Linked DNA regions of Homo sapiens: region 1 is linked to region 2. Evidence: fine-mapped expression QTL. A gene starts in region 2. The other region holds a variant in brackets. All regions are shown on one strand. Distances are between the middles of the regions.

Region 1 (8,000 bases), 46 kb before region 2:
CTCAAACTCCTGGGCTCAAGCAATCCTCCCACCTTGGCCTTCCAAAGTGCTGGGATTACAGGCGTGAGCAAGCACACCCAGCTGACCTTATCTTTTTTTTTTTTTTCTTTGAGAGAAAGTCACAAAGTCTTGCTCTGCAGTGGCACAATCTCAGCTCACTGCAATCTCCACCTGCTGGGTTCAAGTGATTCTCCCACCTCAGCCTCCCAAGTAGCTGGGATTACAGGCGCACGCCACCACACCTGGCTAATTTTTGTATTTTTAGTAGAGACAGGTTTTCACCATGTTGGCCAGGCAGGTCTCAAACTCCTAATCTCAAGCGATCCACCCACCTTGGTCTCCCAAGGTGCTGGATTACAGGCGTGAGCCACTGAGCCTGGCCCAACCTTACTTTTTAAAGAACTCTAATGAATAAGACATAAAAAGGATATGTTTATGCCAGTGACTTATTTTATTTTTTATTTTATTTTTTTTTTTGAGATAGAGTCTCGCTCTGTTACCTACGCTGGAGTGCAGTGGCATGATCTTGGCTCACTGCAGCCTCTGCCTCCTGGGTTCAAGTGATTCTACTGCCTCAGCCTCCTGAGTATCTGGGATTACAGGTGCACGCCGCCACGCCCAGCCAATTTTTGTTATTTGAAAAAACACCAAGACAGGGTTTTGGCATGTTGGCCAGGCTGGTCTCAAACTCCTGACCTCAAGTGGTCCACCCGCCTCAGACTTCCAAAGTGCTGGGATTATAGGCATGAACCACCACACCCGGCCCGTTTACTGTTTTTTGTTTGGTTTGTTTTTTTTTATTGAGATGGAGTCTCGCTCTGTCGCTCAGGCTGGAGTGCAGTTGAGCGATCTTAGCTCACTGCAACCTCCGCCTCCCGGGTTCAAGCGATTCTCCTGCCTCAGCCTCTCGAGTAGGTGGGACTACAGGCGCGTGCCACCATGCCCAGCTAATTTTTTGTATTTTCAGTAGAGATGGGGTTTCACCGTGTTAGCCAGGACGGTCTTGATATCCCGGTCTCATGATCTGGCCACCTCAGCCTCCCAAAGTGCTAGGATTACAGGCGTGAGTCACCACACCCAGCCGGATTTTTTTTTTTTTTTTTAATAGAGGCAGGTTCTTACTATGTTGCCCAGTCTGGCCTTGAACTCCTGGGATCAAGCAATCCTCCCATTTCAGCCTCCCTTACAGCTGAGTCTACAGTCATGCCCAGGCACGCCTGGCTATTTTTTTTTTTTTTTTTTTAGTAGAGATGGGTGGTCTTGATATGTTGCCCACGCTGGTCTTGAACTCCTGGAATCAAACAATATTCCTGCCTCAGAAAAAATAGGTTTGTCCACCAGAGTTTTTAACATCTAAAAAAGACTTTCTCTTTCTCCTGCCTCTCTTCACTCCTCCAGTTAGTTCTACATTCAGCTACTCCTTGGCAGCCCTAGCCTGGCTCCTATTTTGTCCTCCTCTTTCAACCAACAAAAACCCCAAAATGCTCTCTCCAGTCAAAGAAAATTTCCAGTTCAACGTCCTCCCTACTGGCCTCTCTCATCCCTCAGTCACACTATCACCCCACAGGCTCCTTTATGTTTGCTCTCCCAAAATTAGATTCTTCCCTGTTGTTCTTTCCTCTAGCACAAGCTTTGCTTTTCATATTACATTGTGTCAAATATATGGTTCATAATAATAGCCACAATTTATTGAGACTTTGCCATGGCTAGGCACTTCCCACATCTTACTACCAGGACCCTGCAAGCAAAGGTTAAACAAGCCTATGGTCCAGATGAGGACACCATGGCCCACCTCTCTAACTGACCGGCCCAAAGTCACTGAGTGGGCAAGCAGCAGGGCTAGGATTGGTGCCAGCGTGTCTGGCTCTTAATTTTTTTAGTTCACCAGAACATAACATAAGTCTTATTAACATAATCTGCTTTATCTATTTGGTATGAATTTGCGGGGCTGTGTAAGAAAGGTTTGCTGCCAGTTTTGAGACTTGTCTGTTTGCAACAGGCTACATCTGCATCTGCTTTACCTAACAGTTGCCACCCCTTGCGTTATATACTATGTGTCAGACCCTGCATGCAATAAGTGCTTACACTCACTTATCCCTGAAGAACCCTACGAGGTAGGTAAATTACACTTACTTGACATACAAAAAAAAGGTGTCCTATATGACAGGTAAGGTACATGGAGGCTGCAAGCCCCATCCACTTAAACCTCTGAGTTGTCTCACTTTTATGGCTCCCCTATCTTTCTGCCAGCGGCATTCAAGAAATTGATGTCTGGGGCAGGGTGCCGTGGCTCACACTTTGGGAGGCCAAGGCGGGCAGATCACTTGAGTTCAGGAGTTTCAGACCAGCCTGGCCAACATAGTGAAACCCCGTCTCTACAAAAGATACAAAAAATTAGCTGGGTGTGGTGGTGTGCGCCTACAGTCCCAGCTACTTGGGAGGCTGAGGCTGGGAGAATCGCTTAAACCCAGGAGGCGGAGGTTGCAGTGAGCCAAGATGGAGCCACTAAACTCCAGCCTGGGCGACAGAGCGAAACTCCATCTCAAAAAAAAAAAAAAAAAAAAAAAAAAAAGCCTAAGAGAAGAGTGGAGTAGGAAGAAGTGACTAGAGTGACCAGAAGGCCTCAGGATTAGGAAGAAGTACTGAGATGGGAGGGAACACAGCCATGAAGAAAATGCCTTGGGAGCTTCAGGGAAAGGAAGAGGTTTGAGTAGAAGCCACCTTAAAGCGCCAGAAATCATGATTAAGAGAATCTAAGTCAGTGAAATCTGGCTCAGAGGTGACTCCTCCCTCAGTAGAAATTCCACATACAAAAAAAATCCAAGCTCATGTCTACGGCATTCAGATCAAATAAATATTTATTGCCTATCCACCTGTAATGGGTACTCTGTTTGCAAGTATCATCACCAAAACACCATAGGGTATAAGAAGGTGATAGTGCTATACTCACTGTTCAGAGGAAAATGGCCCAGAGAGGTGACATTTCTTTCTGGAGCTTACACAGTAACATATGGACAGAGGCCCGAATGCAGGTCCATTTGACCCAACTATCATGTTCTTTCCCCCAAATCTCAGCTACATTAGTAAACATTACACATAAAAAGAATATCCACAGTGTATGTGCATGCTCCATTTGAGAAAAGATGTAATAGCACTAACTCTGAAATTATTTTTAATAAACTGTAACTTACTGGTGGAGAAGCAAAACGACAAGATGGAGAGCTGCCACAGGAGCTTCCAGAGACAGAACCAGAATACATGGGCACTGGAACTGGGCAAGCTAGGGGAAGAAACACAAATGAACTACATCATTTTGTAGTGCAGTCACATGACCTGTATAACAGAAACACTTGCCAAAACTACTACACCTTTGTGTTCCCCCAAAATCTGCATTTACCTATTTATTACCACATCTGCTGATGAAACTAAAAATGCAGCAATTACTAAAACTATTTCAACTTCGTTTCAGAAGGAAAAATAGAACAGTTATTAAATAAACACAACCGTAGGTATCTAAGAAAATCAGGCTGGGAGCAGAGGCTCACTCCTATAATCCCAACACTTTGGGAGGCTGAGGCAGGAGGATCACTTGAGGTCAGGAGTTTGAGACCAGCCTGACCAACATGGTGAAACCTCGTCTCTACTAAAAATACAAAAATTAGCCAGGTGTGGTAGTGCCCGCCTGTAATCCCAGCTACTCCAGAGGCTGAGGCAGGAGAATCACTTGAAACCAGGAAGCAGAGGTTGTACCACTGCACTCCAGCCTGAGTGACAGAGCAAGACTCCGTTTAAAAAAAAAAGTAGCTGGGTGTGGTGGCTCACACCTGTAATTCCAGCACTTTGTGGGGCTGAGGCGGGTGGATCACCTGAGGTCCGGAGTTCGAGACCAGCCTGACCAACATGGAGAAACCCCATCTCTACTAAAAATACAAAATTAGCCGGGCATGGTGGCGCATGCCTGTAATCCCAGCTACTCCAGAGGCTGAGGCAGGAGAATGGCTTGAACCCGGGAGGTGGAGGTTGCTGTGAGCCGAGATCACGCCACTGCACTCCAGCCTGGGCAACAAGAGCGAAACTCCATCTCAAAAAAAAAAAAAAAAAATAAATAAATAAATAAATAAATTCAATGAAATTTTAGGAGTCACAATAAAAGATGAATTTTGTAGTAAAAATCATTAATTTTTCCTAAAGCTTGCATTCATTCTTTAAGTGAAAATACAAAAAATGGATACTCACATTTTTTTACTGGACCTTGCTCAAGAAAAGGATGGCTAAAAAATGCTTCTGTAACAAGAAATGAGAATGCAACCTTTAAAGAGACATTGACTAAACTATCAACCAGGTTATTTTTTCTCAACGTATTCAATATAATGTCTTTGAGATCAGAATTTAACTTCTTTATATAGG[C/A]TCCATTTCCTTTAAATGTAAAAGCGTATTTTTTATAAATCCTCTATAAAATAATTATTTTTATAATCATATAAAATAATGAATCAATAACAAATTTTAAATAATTACGAATTCTCAAAACATCTATCACCAGCACAACATACTCTGATGCTACTTACACAGACATGTTCTCTAACGTATGCCACCCTCCAGTGGACAGCCCCACAGGAGAACTGTGATCACCAGGCCCTTGTTAAGCACCCATGTGAACTACAGCTGTTAATTGTCCTAAGAGGAAATTGATACAGCTGATTTATACAACAAACTATCCTTCGCCCCTACAAGTATTCCTGATGCTGGTTTCACATTAAAAAGAGAAAAAACTGGCCGGGTGTGGTGGCTCACGCCCGTAAGCCCAGCACTTTGGGAGGCCGAGGCAGGCAGATCACCTAAGGTCAGGAGATTGAGACCATCCTGGCTAACACGGTGAAACCCTGTCTCTACTAAAGATACAAAAAATTAGCTGGGCATGGCGGCCGGCGCCTGTAGTCCCAGCTACTCGGGAGGCTGAGGCAGGAGAATGGCGTGAACCCGGGAGGCGGAGCTTGCAGTGAGCCGAGATCGCGCCACTGCACTCCAGCCTGGGTGACAGAGCGAGACTCCGTCTCAAAAAAAAAAAAAAAGAAACTACAAAAACAATACATTCAATAATTTTAAAACCATTCTCCATAATAGTTGTTTCACTATTGACCATAATTCTCATGGTTCAGAGCAACTCTCAGCTTAACTTCTCCCTAATAGGTATAAATATTTCCAACTACATGAACTTAATTTTAGTCCAACTTTACAAAACATTAAGAAAATAGGTATTCAGACCATTTCATCTTTTCCCCGACATGGAAACAATTACAGCTATCCTCTACTGAGTATTCAACATTCACTAAGACAATGAACTGGGTGCTTCACAAACCTTATCTGAGGAAGTATGTCCTCCTATGATGGGTAATAAAATTAAAAGCACACAAAGGCCATGTTTCTTGTCCAATGTCAAAGAGTTAGTAAGGTGAGGGACTAGAATTCAAATTCTAGTCCAACTTATTTAAATACCAATGTGGGTTTCCCTATTATACTATACATTAGCAAACCAAAATCCTGGAGTATATTTCCACAAATCTCTGTTAGTATTACAACTATTACTACAGGAAAAGTCAAACACTTTTTTCCCTAAAAACTACAAGATCAGGGTTAATTTGCTAAGTATTTTCATTAAACATGTCTTAATGATTTCTCTGGTCTGACATTTTCAAGTAGCTGTTTTTACCTAAGATAAGAATTAGGTTGGACCGGGCGTGGTGGCTCACGCCTATAATCCCAGCACTTTGGGAGGCAGAGGTAGGTAGATCACCTGAGGTCAGGAGTTTGAGACCAGCCTGACCAACATGGAGAAACCCCGTCTCTACTAAAAATACAAAATTAACAGGCATGGTGGCACATGCCTGTAATCCCAGCTACTCAGGAGGCTGAGGCAGGGGAATCGCTTGAACCCGGAAGGTGGAGGTTGCGGTGAGCCGAGAACCTGCCATTGCGCTCCAGCCTAGGCACCAAGGGCGAAACTCTGTCTCAAAAAAAAAAAAAAAGCAACTTCCAAAAACTTTAAGATAAACTGATGAGACCCACACAGAGTTACAGAATCAAACTTTCAAAAGACAGAGAGAATCTTGGAAGCAAGAGAGAAGCAACTTGTAATATACAGGGATCCTTAATAAGAATATCAGCCAATTTCCCATCAAAAATCTTGAGGCCAGAAGGCAGTGGGATATTATCTAAAGTGCTGAAAGAAAAAAAAGTTAACTGAGAATTCTACATTCCACAAAACTGTCCTTCAAAACTCAGGAAGAAATTAAGATATCCCCAGAAAAACAAAAGCTGAGGGAATTCATTACCACAAGACCTCCCCTATAAGAAATGCTAAAGAGAGTACTTCAGGTTGAAATGAAAAGAGCTAGACAGTAAAAAGCCACATGAAGACATGAAGATCTCCGGAAAAGATAAATGCACTGGCAATTTAAAATCCAATAGTACTGTAATTTTGGTTTGTAACTTCACTTTTTCACTTTCTACAGAGTTTAAAAGACAAATGCATTAAAATTATCATAAAGATATAATTTGTGATATCAACATAAAGGGGGTATAAAGCAATACAGAAGTAGAGTTTTTGTGTGCAACTAAAGTTAATATGAATTCAGTAACTTTAGATGTTATATGTAATCCGCAGGTAACCACAAGGAAAAATATACACAGAAGGAAATGAGAAAGGAATCAAAACACATTACTATAAAAAACAACACTAAAGAGAGCAGTAATGGGAGAAATGTGGGACAAAAAAGCTGTAAGACATAAAAATAGTAAAATGGTGAAAATCTTTCCTCATCAGTAATTACTTTAAATGTAAATAGATCTCCTTAGGCAGAGACTGGCAAAGTAGATTAAAAGGAAATAATCCAACTATAATCTGTAAACAGAACAGAGACTCCCTTTAGGCCATGTGAGGTGGCTCACGCCTCTAATCCCAGGCAGATCTCTTAAGCTCAGGAATTCAAGACCAGCCTGGGCAACATGGTGAAACCAAAAATACAAAAAAATTAGCTAGGCATGGTGCTGCACATCTGTGGTCCCAGCTGAAGTGAGAGGATCGCCTGAACTCGGGACACAGAGGTTGCAGTGAGCTGAGATTGTGCCACTGCACTCCAGCCTGGGTGAAAGTGTAAGACTCCATCTCAAAAAGAAAAGAAAAAAGAAAAAGAGACTCGCTTTAAATCTAAAGACACAAATATTTGAAAGCAAAATAATGGAAAAAGCTATTCCCAGGCAAATACTAAGCAAAAGAGAAGGGCAAAGTTGACTATCAGACAAAATAGAATTTGAATTGAAAACTGTTATAAAAGACAAAAAGTACGTTAAATAAGGCCAAGTACACTGGCTTAAGCCTGTAATCCTAGCACTTGGGAGGCCCAAGGTGGGTGGATCGTTTGAGTTCAAGAGTTCTAGATCAGCCTGGAAAAAATGGTGAAACCCTGTCTCCACAAAAAATACAAAAATTAGCCAGGTGTGGTAGCTTTGCACCTGTAGTCCCAGCTACTTGAGGGGCAGAGGTGAGAGGATCACTTGAGCCCAGGAGGCAGAGGTTTCAGTGAGCCAAGACTGCACCACCGCACTCCAGACTAGGTGACAGGATGAGACCCTGTCAAGGAAAAAAAAAAGGGGGGGGGCTGGGCACGGTAGCTCACGCCTGTAATCCCAGCACTTTAGGAGGCTGAGGAGGGTGGATCACAAGGTCAGGAGTTTGAGACCAGCCTGACCAACATGGTGAAATCCTGTCTCTACTAAAAATATAAAAATTAGCTGGGCATGGTGGCAGGCACCTGTAGTCCCAGCTACTTGGGAGGCTGAGGCAGGAGAATCGCTTGAACCTAGGAGGCGGAGGTTGTTGCAGTAAACCGAGATCGCGCCACTGCACTCCAGCCTGGGTGACAGAGCGAGACTCCATTTCAAAAAAAAAAAAAAAAAAGGTATTAAATAATGATAGAAGGGTCAATTAACCAAGAAAATTTAAG
Region 2 (15,568 bases):
CACACAAAATTAGCTGGGCATGGTGGTGCACACCTATAGTCCTAGCTACTCGGGAGGCTGAGGCAGGAGAATCGCTTAAACCCGGGAGGTAGCAGTTGCAGTGAGCCGAGATCAAGCCACTGCACTGCAGCCCAAGAGACAGAGTGAGACTCCATCAAAAAAAAAAAAAGCTCTATTTTTAATTGTCCTTTCAACATTCATCAGAGAATGCTAGATCTGGTATCAACAGTCCTCTACTTCACCTAAAACAATGCTACACCTATAGTGTATTATCAATTGTTAATAAACTTACTCATGCAGCAAATTCTTTCAGCCTATTACTCTGTTCTGTTTTAAACAATTTCTTAATTCAGAAACATGTAACTCAAGCTATGCATCTTTTCAACAAGAATTAAGGTCATTTTTATTTCTATTAAGAGTCACTTAAATCTGTATGAAATTAAAAAAAATTTATTTTAATTTTTAAAAATTTTCAAAATAAGGTACCTGAACATCATAGAGTGCTACAATATTTTCATGCTGAAGTTCCTATTAAGAAAATTGAGAATGAAAAATATGTAAGTATTCTAATGACTTTACTATATTTTAATATGTAAATAAAATTAAAGTATACACATACACTTCTAGTATTATACTTATATTAAGACTATAAAAATTCAATTAAAGAATAAGAAATGTGCCTGATCAAACAAAAAGCACATTATCTCACTGAAAGAAAATATGATTTTTAGCTCAAAGAGCTACAATTCTTAAAAAAGAGCTCTCCACAGGAAGCAGTTTTGAGGAAATCGGGTGTTAAATGAGGGTTCCACGCTTGTATTAGTTTGGAAAACACCAGGTTAAGTACTTTGAAACAAGTTTCTTCATTGTAGAATTTTTCAGACTTTCTTTAATGAGCCATAGGCTTTGTGACTCTCCAAGAAGTATTTAGTAAATGGGGTTTTCCAAACGTACTCAACCATCTTCTCAAACCATCCCACTTAGATAACACTGGTTGTGAGTGATCTAAAAAGGCCACCTCCAAGGAATATAACTTTCTTCAATTTAAAGAAAGACCCCAAGCACCCCTACTCCCCCCAAAAAACTTAGTAGTAACATGAAAGGGGACAACAGGAGAGGTAAAAACAATGTACAAGATGGGTCTGCCTGGCCCTCTTCTCAAACAACAACACAGTCACTAGGAAAAAGAGAAATGATGAGAAGCTAAACTCAGTCTTCACAGAATCCCTCTGAGCTTTGGTTCTTAAAAATAGCTTCCGAGTACTCAATGTTTTAAAAAAGTGAGCATGCAAAAAGGAGAGCAACAGTTGAAAATTCTCAAACTTGGACCCAACTACCAAAATTGAAAAGGATGGCAGCATGTATTCATTTAAATTAAGTTTTAACCTTATATGAATACTACTACATAAAGTAACATACCTTTAAGATTTTAATTTCCTTTCCAAGCAGTATTTGTGATTTTGACAAGTTCTTTTTATTAATACTTTTAATAGCTACCTCCCAATCAGTTTTCTGAAAAGGAAAAACAGTGTTACTCCTAGATACCATTCCACATAAATAACAGAAAAAAATTTACAAGCGCGAAGGTGTTTTTGGCAAATAAATGTACGGCATTGGGGAAAAATGGAATTATTTTCAATAATTGGAAAGTGATTTCATAAATTATAGTGCAATATGCCAAGATCCTACAACACAACTTCTAAAAATAACAAATATGAAGTCCACATGGTAACTAACATTAAATGAAAAAAGAACAGTTCACAACCACTTCAAAGTTATGGACAAATGTAGAAATAAACTTGGAAGGTGATACAGTTAATTGAAAAGTTATTTGTTAGCTTGGAAGGATTACACCGTGCTTGAGTTCTAAATTATTTTCCTAATAAATGAAAAGTAGGCCGGGAGCCGTGGCTCACACCTGTAATCCCAGCACTTTGGGAGGCTGAGGCGGGCAGATCGGATCACCTGAGGTCAGGAGTTCAAGACCACACTGGCCAACGTGGTGAAACCCCATCTCTACTAAAAATACAAAAAAAAAAAAATTAGGCGGGCGTGGTGGCGGGCACCTGTAATCCCAGCTACTCAGGAGGCTGAGGCAGGAGAATCGCTTGAGCCCGGGAGGCAGCGGTTGCAGTGAGCGGAGATCTCGCCACGGCACTCCAGCCTCGGCGACAAAGCGAGACTCTGTCTCAAAAATAAATAAATAAATAAATAAGAAAAGTAGCATTACTTCATCCGATAAGCAACAAAGTCAGCCCACTTTTAACACGCCCCTTGGGCAACAATCAGAACTGCCACACCCTTTAAGATTATTTCCACTCCCGATATGCCTTTCCAAATTCTTTAGATTCTAAAACCTCGTGTAACTGTACTTGCGAAACAGCAAAGGCTTAAAACAATTTTTTTAAGGCTTAAAGGTGATTTCATGTTCAAGGTGATTGAAAATGAATTGTCCAACCACCTTTCTCACCCGGAGCTCGTCTATCTGACTCCGGGGGGGAAAACGGTACGGGGGCTCTTCGGGGTGCAGGGGACCAGTGCTGGGAAAGGTGACACCTCCCAGGCTGCGAAAGCCTGAGGCTAATGGGACATCCGCCCATTTTCCGCTGGGTCTGTAATTATCAACCTCAAAAGTGACCAGCCCTGGGCACGGGGAAAAAAACCAAAGGTCCATTCACGCCCAACCCTCGAGTCTGCACGGTGCAGTACCGTCTATTTTGGGTCCAGGGTAACCTGGGTGCAAACGCTCCTGCGGGCGGACCGCGGGGTGGGCCCCGGGCACACAGGAGGATCAGCAGCAGCCGGTCGGTAGGCGGAGCGCTGCCAGAGGCTTGGGCCTCACAACAACCCTCACAGGACCAAAACAAACGGCGAGACGGGCTGCGCGCACAATAGCATACCCGGGCGGCTAGCCGAGTCGGGGGTCTCGGCTCGCGGCTGCGCCAAGTTTCAGAACCACCTAGCCCCGTGCCTGCCGCCCGGGGCCCGGCCTCGCCCCGGCCGGCGCTCACCTGGCGGTGCCGCCCCCGGAAGACCACGGCGAAGGCCCCGTGTCCCACGAGATCCCTCTTGCTGTACTCGAAGTCACCCACCACCTCCATGGCCGCGCCCCCGGGGCACACAGCGGACGGGCGGGCGGCGCAGTGCGGCGCAGGTATCAGCACCGCGGCTCCGCGGGCCCGGAGCGCGCCAGCGTGCGGCGGGTCTGGGGCAGCCGCAGCCCCGGGCCCGGGCGGACTCTCATGCCGAGAGACCGGAGCGGAAACTGGGGAAGCTGCCGCGCGGAGCCAGGGTCAGCGAGGCCCGGCCCGGCCCCTGCCGCTCATGGCCCGGCCTGCCGCCGGCCGCTGGCTGTCTGGCGAAGCGGCCTCGGCGCTGCCGGGCCAGGGGTGCCGTCACCGTCACTGTGCGCGCCCAGAGCCGCACACGCGCTCTGAGGCAGTGAGGGGCCCGGTACTCTCCATCCCCAGCTCGTCGGGCCTCCTCGGCCCTCCCCGCTCGGGGCGCTGCTGCGACGGCGACGGCCGCCGCCCTAGAACCCGCACCGCCGCGGCCCCGCGCTTCCCCGCCTCGCGGCGGCGCCCAACGCCCTCGCGCGCGCTACCCGCTCCCGCGCGACTGGCTGCCCTCCGCGACGTCCGCGCGCCTTGAAGGCCGCAGCGCCAGCCGGCTCCCTCCGCCGGGGAAAGGAGTGCGGCCAGGGCTTGGCGCCCGCAGCTGGGCAGATCCTCGGCCGCTCCTGAGGCGGGGACGAAGGGCGCGACCCGCTGCGGCCACAGCGGGTTACGGGCTGCGGGCTCCGTTCTGGGCCTGGGGAGCAGATTCGAGCCGACCACGCCCCGGGCTCCAGGCCGCTGGGAGGCGGACTTCAGAGAAGCGGGTCTTGAACCCCAGCTGCAGGCAGGACGGGATTATCTGCGCAGGGTAGACCCCCAGATTCCTGCCAGAGCAAAGGAGCAACTGCTACTCCAGGCTTTGCCCGCGCTCTGGAAAACCAGAGTTCACGCTGCCAAACTGCCAGCCTTCGGACGCCTCTCGGGGTTTACTCGCTTAGGATCCCTAGAGGGACGGTGACAGGCGGGATTCTGCACCTTTTGGGGGTCCCTTGACTGCGAGAAGCTGGTGACAGCTCAGGGCCCTCTTCGCAGAGAATCGTTTCTGCACACCGACTCAGAATCGCACACGTTTTCAAGGTTCTCCTGGGAGCTCCTAGTGTCAGGCTAGTTTGACCTCGGGCTTACTTCACATGGCCGAAGGGAGCTTTCTTTTCTACCTGATTGTTAAAGCTGTCCAAGTGACAAGGAACAGATTGTCAGGTTTCCCGCAAAGAAGTGTCTTATGAAACCATTTAATAAACAATATGCTTGAAACTACCATGGAATACGCAGGCTCCACACTTGAGTGTGTGTTCGGTTGTATAGGGTATGTGCTTTTGGGGTCTGTCACCACCTCGACTGCCACTGCCTGTCCCTGCAAGCTGATCTCTGAACCATGACAGAGTCAGCTCCAGGATTCTGAGAGAACGCTCCTTCCTCACACGCTCAAAACGTAGGGCCTTGAGTTTCTGCTTCTGCTACTGTGCACGCTTACGTTATCCTGTCCTTACTTACATCTGGCCCAGGTGGTTGTGTTAGACACTGAAAATCTGGAGCCTTCAAAAGTTGACAGCAACTTAAGCAAGTTTGCACATACACCCAAAAATGGATGGAGATGATTCCTTACCTCACTGAAAGATTCTCTACAGTCTATTTTTTTGTTTACTTTTTTTTTTTTTTTTTTTTTTGAGACAGAATCTTACTCTGTCACCCAGGCTGGAGTGCGGTAGCACAATCTTGGTTCACTGCAACCTCTGCCTCCCAAGTGCAAGTGATTCTGCTGCCTGAGCCTCCCAAGCAGCTAGAATTACAGGCACGCACCACCACGCCCAGCTAATTTTTGTATCTTAGTAGAGATGGGGTTTCACCATGTTGGCCAGGCTGGTCTCAAACTCCCAACTTCAAGGGATCAGCCTGTCTCGGCCTCTCAAAGTGCTGGGATTACAGGCGTGAGCCACCACGCCCGGCCTGTTTTTTGTTTTGAGACAGAGTCTTGCTCTGTTGCCCAGGCTGGAGTGCAATGGCATGATCTCGGCCCACTGCAGCCTCCGCCTCCTGGGTTCAAGTGATTCTCCTGCCTCAGCCTCCCAAGTATCTGGGATTGCAGACCTGCACCACCATGCCCGGCTAATTTTTTTTTTTTTAGTAGAGGTGGGGTTTCACCATGTTGGCTAGGCTGGTCTCAAAACTCCCAACTTCAAGCGATCCGCCCACTTCGGCCTCCCAAAGTGCTGGGATTATAGGTGTGAGCCACCTCACCTAGCCACATGAAGGTTTTTTGTTTGTTTGTTTGTTTGTTTTGAGACGGAGTCTTGCTCTGTCGCCCAGACTGGAGTGCAGTGGCACGATCTCAGCTCACTGCAAGCTCTGCCTCCCGGGTTCACGCCATTCTCCTGCCTCAGCCTCCGGAGTAACTGGGACTACAGGCACCCGCCACCACGCCCGGTTAATTTTTTGTATGTTTTTAGTAGAGACGGGGTTTCACCGTGTTAGCCAGGACAGTCTCCATCTCCTGACCTCGTGATCCGCCCACCTCGGCCTACCAAAGTGCTGGGATTACAGGCGTGAGCCACTGCGCCCGGCCACATGAAGGTATTTTTCAGAAACCTCCAATAGGCCCTTCGTTTGGACATGCGTGTCCTGTATTCACAGGCCAAACATGGGCCCCATGGACATATCCATTTGAAAAGCAAAATGTGCAGGATTTCTGACCTCAAGAGTCAGAAAAGAAGTGGGGGCAGGAGGCAGGGGGTGCTTTGCTAAAAAATGTTTAGTTAGGACTATGTTGGTAGCAAATAGCAAACGTCAAATGTGATAAAGTGAAAAATAAAGAATGTAGATAAAGATACAGGTGTGCTTCTCAGAGTTCAAAGTTGGGCTTCAAAAGCAAACTACCCGCAGAACCAGGATCTCAAAGAGAACTGCCTTCCGTCTGTGCCCCTGCTTTGTTCTCTTGCCTGAGATCTCCTACATGGTGGCAATGGCAGCCCCAGTCTCCAAACCAAATTTTTTTTTTTTTTGAGACGAAGTCTTGCTCTGTCGCCCAGGGTGGAGTACAGTGTTACGATCTCGGCTCACCGCAACCTCCGCCTTCCAGGTTCAAGCGATTCTCCTGCCTCAGCCTCCCAAGTAGCTGGGATTACAGTTGCGTGCCACTGCACCTAGCTAAAATTTTTTTTGCTTTTTTAGTAGAGGCGGGGTTTCACCATGTTGGCCAGGCTGATCTTGAACCCCTGACCTTAGGTAACCCGCCTGCCTCGGCCTCCCAAAGTGCTAAGATTACAGGCGTGAGCCACTGGGCCCAGCCACCAAATTCTTAAGGAGGGGATTCTGATCAACCTAACTTCAGCTGGGTGCTGGGCCCTGAACAATCATCGGAAGCCAGGAATGGGACTGAGGAAGGCAGGATCATGTAACTATGGCTGCCCCCAACACAAGCCTGTGGGTGTTCTGAGTCCCCAGAAGCAGGGGCCACATAGGCACCCCAGGAAGTGTTCACCCTAGGTCAAATTTAGGCTTCATTTGAGAATGGAGGCCAGGGCAGATTTCTAGTTTACCTCTAAAATCACTGGAAATTGCCAATTTGATTCATGTTCATTGTTCTTAATTTGTCCTGTGTGTGCATATGCATGTGTGTCTAAACATGCTTAACTGTTGAAATGTTTCAATACCAGTTAGTAAATAGAAAAACAGTAACTGCAATGAGAGGTAAAATTAATTACTAATATAGGCCAGGCACAGGGGCTCACGCCTATAATCCCAGCACTTTGGGAGACTGAGGTGGGTGGATCACCTGAGGTCAGGAGTTCCAGACCAGCCTGGCCAACATGGTGAAACCCCATCTCTACTAAAAGTACAAAAAGTAGCCGAGCGTGGTGGTGTGTGCCTGTAATCCCAGCTACTCGGGAGGCTAAGGCAGGAGAATCACTTGAACCTAGGAGGCGGAGGTTGCAGTGAACCAAGATTGCACCATTGCACTCCAGCTTGGATGAGAGGAGCAAAAATCCATCTCACACACATGCACACACACACACACACACACACACACACACACACACACTAGCCAGGTGTGGTGACATTCGCCTGTAATCCTAGCTACTCGGGAGGCTGAGGCAGGAAAGTTGCTTGAACCCGGGAGGCAGAGGTTGTGGTGAACCGGGATCGCACCACTGCACTCCAGCCTAGGTGACAAATGAGACACTGTCTTAAAAAAAAATTAATTACTAATATAAATTCTAATATAAACTGTTTAGTTTATCATCCAGTGCTATAGAAATGTTCTGATGATAAAAGGTATCCTGTGAAAATAAATGTGAGAAATATTCTGCTGGGCAGGGAGGCATTCCAAGATGCAGGAGAATAGCCAGTTTATTATTATCTTCAAATTACATCATTGCTATTCCTTCTATTTTGGTTCTATTGTTTCTACTTTGATGACATTGCTGATGCTTTGAAATTCTTGTGAATAGTTAGGGTGCAGTGCTTTGATATTTATAAATGCAAGAATTTACAATAAAATACGAAAAATAAGCACAAAAAAGGAAGCAATAACAAATTTTTAGTATGTTTTTTAAAGTTTTAAAAAATACCATAATGACAAATCTTCTGAATAATAAATGTAAATTTTCTGAAATGATATCAGTAACAAAGTTCAGCCTAGGAATATTTTGATGCAATGCAAAAAACAAACAAACAAACAAAAACAGCAGGGAGCATCTTTTTATATTGTGCAAAAATCAGTATAAAATTTGGCCAGGCGCGGTGGCTCACGCCTGCAATCCCAGCACTTTGAGAGGCCGAGGCGGGCAGATCACAAGGTCAGGAGATCAAGACCATCCTGGCTAACATGGTGAAACCCCATCTCTACTAAAAATACAAAAAACTAGCTGGGCATGGTGGTGGGCGCCTGTAGTCTCAGCTACTCCAGAGGCTGAGGTAGGAGAATGGCGTGGACCCGGGAGGCAGAGCTTGCAGTGAGCTGAGATCATGCCACTGCACTCCAGCCTGGGCAACACAGCGAGACTCTGTCTCAAAAAAAAAAAAATCAGTATAAAATTTGCATCTCAGGTCGGGCTCAGTGGCTCATGCCTGTAATCCCAGCACTTTGAGAGGCTGAGGCAGGCAGATCACGAGGTCAGGAGATCGAGACCATCCTGGCTAGCACGGTGAAACCTAGTCTCTACTAAAAATACAAAAAATTAGCTGGGCGTGGTGGCGGGCACCTGCAGTCCCAGCTGCTAGGGAGGCTGAGGCAGGAGAATGGCGTGAACCTGGGAGGCGGAGCTTGCAGTGAGCCAAGATCGCGCCACTGTACTCCAGCCTGAGCGACAGAGTGAGACTCCATCTCAAAAAAAAAAAAAAAAAAAAAAAAATTTGCATTTCAGGCCAGGCACAGTGGCCCAAGACTGTAACTCCAGCATTTTAGGAGAATGAGGCAGGCAGATTGCTTGAGCTCAGGAGTTCAAGACCAGTCTGGGCAACATAGGAAAACCTCTTCTCTACAAAAAATAAAACAATTGACCAGGCCGGGCACGGTGGCTCACACCTGTAATCCCAGCATTTTGGGATTACAGGCATTTTGGGATCATGGCTGAAAATGCTCTATTCTTTCTAAACCGTACAGTAGATTCTGTTGACATTTTGAAGTGCTTCCAGATAGCTGAACAGGTGGAGGTTCCTGGAGGGTGCTGCGCCTGGAGAGGACATAGAAGCTCCATGTCCCTTCCCACATGATCACTTGAGGTCAGGAGTTTGAGATCAGCCTTGCCAACATGGTGAAACCAGAAGAAGACGACTCTAACATTGCTTGGGGTTGCAAAGTTTTCTGGAAGAAAGTCATGTTGGAGAAAAGTCTTGAAAGATGTATCAGAGCCTGCCAAGTAGGAAAGGTGAGTGAAAGGAGCGTGTTCAAAATGTGGCATTGTGGGAACCAGTGGGCTGTTTGGCATAGCAAGAATGTAAGGTACATGGTTGGATGGGTTGGATAGAATAGTGGGAGATGGGGCTGGGAAGTTAGGTTGGGACCTTATCCAGGAAGGTGCTAGAGGCCCCGCCAACTCCTACTTCCAGCCTGTCTGATAAGGTCATGTCCAAAAGGACTATGAAAGGGGATCGAGAAGAAGCTGGGTTCCCCAATTCTGTTCAGCACACTGTTGTCCACAGCTCTTACTTCCTCATCTGGGCACTGGTGAGCATGTGTCTTAGGTGAACAGATGCACAGGTCAAGGCATGTGGGAAGGGGCATGGAGCTTCTATGTCCTCTCCAGGCACAGCACCCTCCAGGAACCTCCCCTGTTCCGCTATCTGGAAGCACTTCAAAAATGTCAGCAGAATCTACTGTATGGTTTAGAAAGAATAGAGCATTTTCAGCCATGATGGATTTACTAGAACTTCAAAAAAGAATAAGACTGGCCAGGCACAGTGGCTCATGCCTATAATCCCAGCACTTTGGGAGGCCGAGGTGGGTGGATCACTTGAGATCGGGAGTTTGAGACCAGCCTGGCCAACATGATGAAACCCTGTCTCTGCTGAAAATACAAAAATTAGCCAGGTGTGGTGGCACACACCTGTAATCTCAGCTACTCAGGAGGCTGAGGGGGGAGAATCACTTGAACTCAGGATGCAGAGGTTGTAGTGAGCCAAGATGGCACCATTGCACTCCAGCCTGGGCGACACAGCGAGACTTGGTCTCAGAAAAAAAAAAAAAAAAAAGAAAGAAAAAAGGAATGAGACCAATGTAGATGTGCCATTGCAATCTAGATTTGAGCTCCCTCTTACGAAGCAAAGACCCACTGAAATGACAAAACAACTGTCCTTGGTTGCGTTCTCTGCAAAGAGATGCTGACCTGGACTTGAGGTACAGATGATTATTAGGGATTAACACCAGGGGGAGAAAAATGGGGGCTGGAAGCAGAACGGGACAGAAGAGGAAGAACTGTGATGCAGGCTCGACCATGCCTAACCTCCTCAGCAGAAAGCTCTGGAGCAGAACATCAGAGTTGTCCCGCATTGAGCCAAAATGTCACGCCTCACTCAGCAACCTGGTGGGGCCACCCAGGCCCCTGACAGGGCGGTGAGGCTGCTCTGCTGCTGAGGCCAGGAGGAGTTGACTGCTGGACGTTTACTGTGCTACCACAGCCTCGCAGCATGTTCGTCCTCCAGGGAAGGTCTGGGCAGCATGTCCCCAAGGCTACTGCAACAACTTTCGGGAACACTTGGAAGTCAAGCCGTAATTTTCTACCATTATCAATGCCACATCTATTATTTCATATTAAAATATTTTAATAATGTACTTAAATGCAAATTTTAAGACTTTAAAGATTATTTAGTGTGTCCTGTGAATTATGTGGAACTGGCAGAAAAAATATCTGAAAGCATCTATTAAATTTTTTTTTTCCTGTGACTCGGCCCGGCGTGTAATCACAGCACTTGGGAGGCTGAGGTGGGTGGATCACCTGAGACCAGGAGTTCAAGACCAGCCTGACCAACATAGTGAAGCCCTATCTCTACTAAAAATACAAAAATTAGCTGGGTGTGGTAGCGAATGCCTGTAATCCCATCTACTTGGGAGGCTGAGGTGGGAGAATCACTTGAACCCGGTAGGCGGAGGTTACAGTCAGCCGAAATCACCCCACTGCACTTCAGCCTGGGAGAAAGAGCAAGACTCAGTCTCAAAAAAAAAAAAGGAATCCATCCTGATTTAGAAAGTTTAATAAAAACATAAAAACTGTAACATGGGAGTGGCTAAATAATAAATAAATGAAACTTTTTAAGGGTCTGGTTTTAATAAATGATTTATAATAGAAAATTCAATTTTTTCTCTCTTTTTTTTTTCCAGGAGGCTGAGGCATGAGAATCGTTTGAACCCAGGAGACAGAGGGCCACCAGGCCCAGCTGATTTTTTTTTTGTCTTTCTAGTAGAGACGGCAGTTTCGCCATGTTGGCCAGGCTGGTCTCAAACTTCTGACCTCAGGTGATCCACCCACCTTGGCCTCCCACAGTACTGGGATTACAGGCATGAGGCACTGTGCCCGGCCAAAAATTTCTCTCTCTTTTTTTTAAATCAGGTTATCACTCTGTTACCCAGGCCGGAGGGCAGTGAGTGGTACAATCACAGCTCACTGCAGTCTTGACCTCCTGAGCTCAAGCAATCCTCCCACCTTGGGTAGCTGGAAGCACAGACATGAGCCGCTGTGCTGGGCTACTTTAAAAAATTTTTTTAGAGATGGGGTCTCACTTGTTGCCCAGGCTGGTCTCAAACTTCTGGGCTCAAGGGATACTCCTGCCTCAAATTGCTGAGCTTACAGGTGTGAGCCACCACACCTGGCCAATTTCTGTTTTTAATTTCTGATACATTATGCATATGTCAATAGGTCTAGCCTACATAAACCAAAGCTCTTTGGGATTCTCAAAACATTTTCAGGGTGTGAAGGGTTTCTGAGATGAAAGGTTTGAGAACTGCTCCACTAGTCCAAGCTCAAGCTAGTGCCGTAAGAGGCCAGGCTTCATCTACACTGTGCTGTTTGCAGTAAAGTAGGTTCAGTTCCAAATTGTGCCACATCCTGGCTGTAGGACCTTAGGCTTTCCTTCACCTCTCTGGGCCTCTGTGCCATCTGTAGAAATGGAGATGATGATGTTTAGTGACTGCTGGTGGCAGACAGAGATAGAGACAAGTTCACTGACTTGTGAAACATTGGTGGGACAGTCAGGAGGTCCTGATGATGTATTATGAAGATGAGAGTAAAGAGTTGGTGGCCGGCGGCAGTGGCTCACTCCTGTAATCCCAGCACTTTGGGAGGCCAAGGCGGATGCATCACCTGAGGTCAGGAGTTCAAGATCAGCCTGGCCAACATGGTGAAACCCCGTCTCTACTAAAAATACCAAAATTACCTGGGCGTGGTGGCACGCGCCTGTAATCCCAGCTACTTAGGAGACTGAGGCAGGAGAATCGGTTGAACCCGGGAGGCAGAGGTTGCAGGAGCCGAGACCGTGCCATTGCACTCCAGTCTGGGCAACAAAAGGGAAACTCTGTCTCAAAAATAAATAAATAGATAAAAATAAAGCATTGATTTTTCTGATTTATTACAAAGACAGACCTATCTCTTGATATTACTCCCAAGGCTATTCTTTCCGTGCAGCCCCTGCAGCCCTCAGTTCCTCCTTGGAGGAGTCTATAATCAGGAGGACTGATTTCTGGCTGTTGTGTAATTGCTAACACTGGGAAACTAATATTTCCCTTTTTCTCCCTACCGTGGTGAGAATTGCTGAGCTGATATCTTCCCCCAACTCAAGAGGAAGTGAACGCCCTGCCCTGCGCAGGGGGCCCGAAGCCATCTCCTCTGCCTCTCGGGGATGTGGTAGGGATCTTGCCCGAGGTCAACCACACGGCACACACATGCCCACATGCCACGCCTCTCAGGGACGAAGCTCTTGGAGGCTGCCAGCCTTCTTCAAAGGAAGGAAGAAGCAAAACCCACCAGCAACAAGAACTAAAACTGTGTGTGTGATCTCAGTGCAGACATAGCAGAGACATCAGTAGAACCCTGAGACCAGTAGAACCCACAGCCCACAGCGCTGTGCCTTGATAGCGAGGGGGTCACCCTGAGAAGCTGCAGCCCATGTCCTCCCTAAGGCTTCACAACGGGTTGCCTGCTCTAGAGAAACCACCTCAGTTGGGATGCAGAACTTGGCCTGGCAGGTCCATGAACCTGATTTCATGAGCACCCAGAGATCAGGGTGAGAGTCTCTCTCAAGAGGAGTTCACATGAATCACAATCCTAGAGGCTGTGACATATATCCCAGAAGCCGAATGTATTGATTTGTGAGGGAAAGTTTCAGCTGTTAAAAACTAAACCAGAAAAAGCATTTGACAAAATCCAACATTCATTTCTGATTAAAGGTGAACTTCTCCCAACTTTGACATCTGTCCAAACCCATAGTACGTCTATCACCAAGAGAAAACACTAATGTAAAAACCCTCCTGTAAACGGTGGACTTCAGGTGATTAGAGTGTGCCAGTGTAGCCTGATGGATTGTGACCAATGCAGCACTCTGATGGGGGATGTTGACAGTGGGGAAGACTGTGCATGCAGTGGGGGCAGGGAGTGTGTGGGAACTTGCTGTACTTTCTGCTCAATTTTGCTGTGAACCTAAAACTGCTTTAAAAAGTAAAGTCCTAAAAAATGCTCAGCACCACTAATTATCAGCAAAATGCACATTAAAACCACAATGAGATATCATCTCACACCAGTCAGAATGGCTATTATTAAACGGACAAAAAATAACAGATGTTGGTGAGGCTGCAGAGAGAAGGGAACTCTTATATGCCGTTGGTAGGAATGTAAATTAGTACAGCCTCTGTGGAAAACGATGTGAAGATCTCTCACAAACTGAAAATAGAACCATAATGTCATTCAATCCAGCAGTCCCTCTATGGGTATCTACCCAAACGAAAAGAAATTAGTGTATCAAAGGGATACTTGCACTTGTATGTTTATCGCAGCATTATTCACAATAGCAAAGATACAAAATCAACCTAAGTGTCCATCAACAGGTGAATGAATAAAGAAAGTGTGGTGCATATACACAATGGAATATCATTCAGCCATTAGAAGAATGAAATTATTGGCCGGGTGCGGTGGCTCACGCCTGTAATCCCAACACTTTGGGAGGCTGAGGAGGGCGGATCATGAGGTCAGGAGTTCGAGACCAGCCTGACCAACATGGTGAAACCTCATCTTTACTAAAAATACAAGAACAATTCACCAGGCATGGTGGTGCATGCCTGTAATCCCAGCTACTCAGGAGACTGAGGCAGGAGAATCACTTGAACCCAGGAGGCAGAGGTTGCCGTGAGCAAAGATCGAGCCACTGCACTCCAGCTTGGGTGACAGAGGGAGACTCCGTCTCAAAAAAAAAAAAATGAAATTATGTTTTTGGCAGCATCATGGGTAGAAATGGAGGTCAGTCATTATCTTAAGTGAAACAAGACAGGTACAGAAAATAAAATACTGCATGTTCTCACTCATAAGTGGGTACTAAGAAATGTGTGCACATGGACGTAGAGTAGAATGCTAGACAATGGAGACTCAGAAGGGTGAGGAGCTGCGAGGGGGAGGGGTGGATGATAAGAAATTAGTTAAAGGGTGCAATGTACCTGATGGGTGCACTAAAAGCCCTGACTTGACCACTGGGGAATCTATGCATGCAACAAAATTGCACGTGTACCCAATACATTTGTACAAATCGAAATAAAAGTAACTAAAAAGATAAAAATAAAGTCTTTAAAAGGAAAAGAGTAACCCAGATTATGTTGTTCTTTGTTAAAAACCCTACAAAGTCCTCTCATCCAATCAAAGGAAAGTCCTTAACAATAACCTGCAAGACCCTTCACCATCTGGCCTGTTTCCCATGTGTCCACATCTCATGTCACCTTCCCCCAGTTTGCCTGGCCTCCTGCTTCAGGGCTCCTAAACATGCTGTTTCTTCCTCTGGGAATGCTCTCACTCTATCTGCAAGGATCACGCCCTCACTTCCTTCAGGTCTTTACTGAGATGTCACCTGCTCAGTGAGGCTATCCCTGGCCTCCTTTTGTCAAGTTGTATTCCTCCCTCTACAATTCCTATCTCCCTTTCCAGGTTTCATTTTCTCCTTCGTACCCATCACCAGCTAACATCCTACCTAGTTTGTTTGTTTGATGGTCAGCTTCCTCCACTAGAGAATACATTTCTTGAGAACAGGGGTTTTGTCAGTTATTTCTATTATTATTTTAATATATATATTAAAATTGTAAATATGAATATAAAATACATATATTATATATATGTATATGTATTTCAGAGAGAGGGTCTCACTCTGTTGCCCAGGCTCTGAACTCAAGTGATCCTACTGCCTTCTCCTCCCAAAGGGTGCCAGGATTACAGGCTCAAGCCACTGCACCTGGCTACTTTGTCAATTTTGTTCACTCCTAAATACTTGTTGAATGAATGAATAGATGAACTGTCTGGTGGGCTAAAATGCTGGTAACAGTAAGTAGCTCCTCACATACCCTCAGCTCTGCAAAGCCACCTGGGAAGCCATAGATTCAGGGGTACTGAGTAAGCTGGAATCTGAGCCCAGGGTGTCTGCTGACCTCGGGCAATGCCGTTGAAGGCATCACCCTTGGCAAGGCAATACTCTCTCTCCCCATATTGTCTCCTTGACTCTGCCTTTTCATTCTTCCAGGGCTCTCAGCCCCTTTCTGATTAGTACACTCTTTACTCCCCCACCTCCCTCTTTTCCCCCTTGCTTCCTTTCATTTTTTTCTTCCTTTCTTTCGAAAGGGTCCCACTCTGTTGCCCAGGCTAGAGTACAGTGGTGTGATCATAGCTCACTGCAGCCTCCAACTGCTAGGCTCAAGCAATCCTCCCACCTCAGCCTCCCAAAACACTGGAATGACAGGTGTGCGACACCGCATCTGACCAGCACACTCTTTC

Evidence for each region. PIP is the estimated chance that this variant, and not a neighbour inherited with it, causes the effect. A credible set is the group of variants that fine-mapping cannot tell apart.
Region 1: its variant is the best candidate, but not a certain one, in a credible set for the expression of ULK2 in whole blood (INTERVAL, PIP 0.65).

What each region holds. Positions count from the first base shown.
Region 1 is chr17:19,821,903-19,829,902 of GRCh38, forward strand. It overlaps ULK2 (unc-51 like autophagy activating kinase 2), which reads right to left. Exons shown (of 27, transcript NM_014683.4): 11 at 4,237-4,284; 12 at 3,192-3,280. Among named protein-coding and RNA genes, the nearest start is that of TRG-CCC3-1, 35 kb to the right of the region's middle. The variant C/A (reference allele first, on the strand shown) is at 4,408.
Region 2 is chr17:19,864,317-19,879,884 of GRCh38, forward strand. It overlaps ULK2 (unc-51 like autophagy activating kinase 2), which reads right to left and starts at 3,620. Exons shown (of 27, transcript NM_014683.4): 1 at 3,012-3,620; 2 at 1,420-1,512; 3 at 487-528. The coding sequence starts at 3,101. RefSeq lists an enhancer at 2,737-3,245 and silencers at 2,824-3,003, 3,084-3,673.